Regions from separate parts of the Homo sapiens genome. Here region 2 is linked to region 1. A link means that fine-mapping ties the variant in region 1 to the expression of a gene that starts in the linked region. Tissue or cell type: whole blood. Region 1 holds a variant in brackets; the other region holds the start of a gene. All regions are shown on one strand. Distances are between the middles of the regions.

Evidence for each region. PIP is the estimated chance that this variant, and not a neighbour inherited with it, causes the effect.
Region 2: it holds the start of IFFO2, and the variant in region 1 is fine-mapped to the expression of IFFO2 in whole blood (INTERVAL, PIP 0.95).

What each region holds. Positions count from the first base shown.
Region 1 is chr1:18,933,337-18,936,177 of GRCh38, forward strand. All of the region lies in intron 1 of IFFO2 (intermediate filament family orphan 2), which reads right to left. Among named protein-coding and RNA genes, the nearest start is that of IFFO2, 22 kb to the right of the region's middle. RefSeq lists enhancers at 1-380, 2,032-2,577, 2,578-2,841. The variant T/C (reference allele first, on the strand shown) is at 1,578.
Region 2 is chr1:18,955,509-18,958,008 of GRCh38, forward strand. IFFO2 (intermediate filament family orphan 2) reads right to left here and starts at 1,168. Exons shown (of 9, transcript NM_001136265.2): 1 at 160-1,168. The coding sequence starts at 824. RefSeq lists silencers at 1-110, 351-610, 1,181-1,350.

The sequences.
Region 1 (2,841 bases):
CTGCCCATTTGTACCCAGGGGCACGAGAAAGGAAACCAAGCATCCACCATCACACTGAAAACATTGGTTCCCTTCAGCAGCGACGTGGGTGGCTGGGGATTATGGGGTAGAACTGTCACTCTGTCCCCTCTGTATCTTTTCTTAATACACATAACAGGCCAGGCACGTTGGCTCACGCCTGTAATCCCAGCACTTTGGGCAGGTGGATCACTTGAGCCCAGGAGTTCCAGACCAGCCTGGGCAACATGGCGAAACCCCATCTCTACAAAAAATTTAGCCAGGTGTGGTGGCACCGCTTATAGTCCCAGATACTCAGGAGGCTGAGGTGGGAGGATTGCTTGAGCCCAGGACCTCAAGGCTGCAGTGAGCCAAGATCGCGCCACTGCACTCCAGCCTGGGTGACAGAGCAAGACCCTGTCTCAAAAATAAATAAATAAATAAACCATATAACATAGAATTTACCATCTTAACCATTTTTAAAGTGGCATTAAGTGCATTCACACTGCTGTGCAACCATCACCTCCATCCATCTCCAGAACTCTTTCATCTTGCAAAACTGCAACTGTGCCTGTTAAGCAGTAGTACCCCGTACCCCTCTCCCCGCAGCCCCTGGCAACCACCCTTCTACTTTCTGTCTCTGTGGATTCGACTTCTGGGTACTTTGTATAAATAGAATCAGATAGTATCTGTCCTTCTGTGAATAGCTTATTTCTCTTATTTCTTTTTTTTTTTTTTTTTTTTTTTTTTTGAGACAGCGTCTCACTCTGTTGCCCAGGCTGGAGTGCAGTGGTACAATCACACAACTCACTGCACCTCCACCTCCTGGGCTCAAGCAATCCCCCTGCCTCAGCCTCTGGAGCAGCTGGGACTATAGGCATGAGCCACCATGCCCAGTTAATTTTTAAAAATTATTTTTTGTAGAGACGGGGTTTCACCATGCTGTCCAGCAGGTCTCGAACTCCCGGGCTCAAGCAATTCTCCCACCTTGGCCTCCCAAAGTATTGAGATGACAGGTGTGAGCCACCGCGCCCAGCCTGGCTGATTTCATTTAGCATAATATCCTCAAGGTTCATCCATGTTGTAGTGTGTGTCAGAATTTCCCCTCCTTCTGTATCTTTTTAATTTTGAATGATGTCATGTATACCTGCTCAAAACATCAAAACCACTTAAATTTTTAAAAGACAAAAATACCTGCTCGTTTTCCCCTTGCTTTAAATTGCATGAGTGTTTACAATGATTACACAAGAAATAGAAAAAGAAAAAAACAGGTAAGCCAGATAAAACCAATGTAAAACCCACCCAAATGAATCCCCCTCCCTGAGAGAATTACGGTTAACATCGGCTCTATATCCTTCCCAACTTTTTCTTATGAGATTTTCTCTTCTTATGAGATTGGTTTTTAACGACAACGGGATGCGACCATATGTGGTTTTCAAATGCATTTTTTCCACCTAACAATATACGGCAGCATCCTCCCGAGCAGGTGACACAGCAGGTGGCTGCAGGGCCACTGGTTTGATGGGTCCTCCACTGTCAGCGCAGAGTCCTTGCAATCTAAACAAGACTGTGAACACCTT[T/C]GTACCCTCACATTTGCATATGTGTCCAGGTATCCCTCTGGGATACCCAGATTGGGTTTCTGGATCAAGTGTGCAGATGTAGAAAAGGCTTTTGTGCCCCTCTAAAGAGCCATGTGTGACGTGTTAGAGAGAACGCTCTCTGGCATTCTCTACCACAGGCTCCCAGTTGCCCAGGGAGCCAAGGAAAAGCAGGGTCCTGGGCCCTTACTCCAGTTCCTGCAGCAACAATGTTTTGTGCCTTAGTTTCCTCATTAGTCAAAAGATTGCCTCCGTTGGGTGCAGGAAGACTCCGCTATAAATACTGTTCTTCCTCACCAGTGGCCCTCTACCTTCCCCAAGGAGCAAGGGTTGGGAGATCAGGCTCATCTGAGAAATGGGCCAGACACTTCTTCTCCAAAAGGGTAGACAGAGGTCTCACCTGGTGGGTGATAAGCCCTGGAGAACAAGGCCACGTGCTAGGGTAGAGTAAGGCTGAATAGCATCCCCCCAACACCTCCAGCCCCCCTGTGCCAAGCTCCATCACACCTCCAAGGCATGGGCTGCATTCTCTGCCCAACAGGTTCTACACCCCTTCCCCTTTGTCCTTTTCCTCTCTCTCTCCCTTACCTAATGTGACTTCAGGACCCAGCTTATAACCCCCTCCAGGAGGCTGACCCGACTCCTTGGTCAGGGTCAAGTGCCACTATTCTGTACTACAAAGGCTCTGGGCCACTTGGTATTGAGGTTACTGATCCCCTGCTGGTCTCCTCTGCTTAACTCATCTTTCTTTTCTCTCTCTCCTTCTGTCTTTTTTTTTTTTTTTGAGATAAGATCTCGCTGTGTGCCCAGGCTGGAGCACAGGGGTGCAACAACAGCTCTCTCGACCTCCTAGGCTCAAGGGATCCTCCTGCCTTAGCCTCCCAAGTAGCTGGGATTATAGGTGCATGCCACCACACCTGGCTAATTTTTCTATTTTTTTTTTTTTTTTTTTTTTTGTAGAGACAAGGTCTCACTATGTTGCCCAGATTGGTCTCAAACTCCTGGGCTGAAGCGATCCTCTCGCCTCAGACTCCCAAAGTGCTGGCATTACAGGTGTGAGCCACTGCGCCCGGCCCTCATCTCTTTCAAGATCAGGCCCATCTATGGGTCACAGCTGCAACTCCAGTGCCCAGCACAGAGCCTGGCACATAGGAGGCCCCATAAATATTCACTGGATTAAAAAGGCCCAGTAAGTGTCATCTCCAGGGCCTTCTCTAGGAGATCCAATCTAGGCCAATGCAGCCCT
Region 2 (2,500 bases), 22 kb after region 1:
TGGGCCTTCCTGGCGTACGTAAGACGCTCTGCAAACACAGCTTCCAGCCCACCTGCCAGTACCAGCTGCCCGCCCGGCCCCCGTCCCGCATACGCATTCCGCGGCAGCCTGGACCTGGGCGCCCCGTCCCAGGGCGGCGGGGGAGGGGCGGCCACTCACCTCCGCTTATACTCGTCGCGCTCGCGCTTCACCTTGGCCAGCACGTTGTAGAGCGCGCGGATCTCCGGCGTGATGGTGTCGATCTGCACGCCCACGCCGTCGGGGTGCACCCACGACACGCCGGGGCCCTGCACGGTCTCCACGCCGCCGCCGCCCGTGCGCCGCACCTGCGTGTAGCTCCAGATGGTCCCGGGCAGGCGGCCGTAGTGCTGCGGGTGCGAGCCGCCGCCGGGGGGCAGGCCGCCCAGGGCCACGGCATTGGCGTTGGCGCCGGCCGCCGCGCCACTGCTGAGGCCGTGCCCGCCGCCGGGCGCCGGGGGCCGCAGCAACTCGGGCCCGGTCTGCACGGCCTGCTCGCGGGAGAAGGTCTTGTAGCGCAGCCGCCGCTCGCGCTCGCTCTGCTGCTGCTCCAGCTGCTTCTCCAGCAGCCGGTTGCGCCGCTCCAGCTCGTGCACCTTAGCCAGGAAGCAGCGGAAGCGCACGTTGAGCCCCTTCAAGAGGTGGATGTTGGAGCCCAGGTCGTCCCGCAGCGCCGCCGTCACCGGCGACGGACCCGGCCCTGCCCCGCCGCCGCCGCCGCCCCCGCCAGGGCAGCCCCCGCCGCCGCCGCCCGGCGGGCAGCCGAAGGCCAAGGCCATCTCCCCGAACAGCAGCGAGTTCACCATGCGCCGGCTGCGCGGCTCAGGGCCCCGGGCCCGCGGCTCCAGGTGCGGCTCCAGCTCCGGGCAGGGCTCCCGGCGCGGCCGGGCCAGGGTGGGCGCGGGCTCCAGCGCGGCCGGCCGGGCGGTTCCAGATGCGCGCCAGATGCGGCCTCCGCAGAGACGGCAGGACGGATGGCCCCGGATGCGGGCGCCGAGGCGAGAGAGGGCACTCGGCCGCTCCTCGGGACGCGGTGGAGGCCGCGGTATCTGCGCGGGGCCAGAAGGGTCGCGGGTCTCACCGCCCGGGCTGTCAGAGACGCTGTGGAGGGGCCGCGGCAGCCGCACGCAGAGGACTCTCGGCCGGCACTGCCCCTTCTGCGGCGGGCCCCGCCCACTGCAGACACTGGCCCCGCCCCCGCCGCGGCCCCGCCCACCCCTCCTCCCTCTGCGGCGTTCCCCGAGCCCGAGGCTCCGCCCCACGAGGCCCGCAGCGCCGGGCCCCACCCACAGACCCTCGGCTCCGCCCACCTCCGGGTTCTCCCGCTTTCTCCGCAGCATAGACTCCGCCCAGCTCCCCGGCGGGGCCACGCCCTCTCCTGCGTCTGGTCCTGCCTCCCCGCCGGGTGCCGATTCTCTGCTGGGGGACCCGGACCGCAGAGCTGCACCAGGGACCGGGTTAGCTGGAACCGCCGCAGAGCCAGCCGGGCCTCTTAAAGGGGCCAGCAGCCTCGGCAACGCTCGCTTTCCACTTTTTAGGGCGCTCCTCTCCCACGTCGCCTGCCGAGAGGGCTCCGTTTCTCTGTCCTCTCTGCCCGCAATGCCCCTGGCCCCAAATTCCTTCGGATGTGCGCGACCGCGGCTGGAAGGGCTGGGGGACCACAGTATCCGAAGGTGCATCGGCACCCCACCCCCACTCTAGCCTGGGGAGGCCCAGATCGACCTTTCGGGGATAAGAGGGCGCCCGTGCCCCACGCTGCGGACCCGGGGGTGGGCTCCTCGAATGCTAGCTGCGGGCCTTGTCCTCTCGAGATCGGCCCGGGCACAGCTAAGCCCGCTGGTTCCCCCGCCCACTGAGGAGCCGAGCAGCATGGGGGTTGGGGAGGCCGAGCAAGACCCTCCCGGGATGACACCCACAAACTCGGCCTGGGCCTCGCCTCTGCTGAGCTGCTCAGCACCTCCCCACCACCCACACCCACACGCTGAGATGAAGCTGACCCCGAGAGCTGGGGATTCATTTCACAGACATGGGGCTTAGCGGGCCGCCTGGGGCAGACCGAGGCAACCCGAGGACCCATTCATTCATTCATTCATTCATTCAAATGTTTTCACACCTACCACGTTAAAGGCCAAGTTCTCCAGTCTCTGGTGTCTCCTGAACCGTGTTGCAAACATTAGTATATGTCAGGCGCCATACTTATTTATTATCCCCATTTTACAGAGAAGGTCACTGAGACGTTAAGTAGCCACAATGGTCCAAAGTGCATGCTCTAACCGGCCTTCCACAATGCTGGCCTCGGGCCTCGTGTCCATTTCCGCATTTGGTCCTCACCGCAAACCTCAGAGGGGAGGTGACCCCCACCTTGAACCCCCACCTTTGAACGCCTGTGGCTTGCATTGTATGCACTTAACCAGATATGTGGCATGTTTCAGATACTTCCGACTGCATTTTTTACTAGCAGTTTAATTTTTGTCTTGTTATT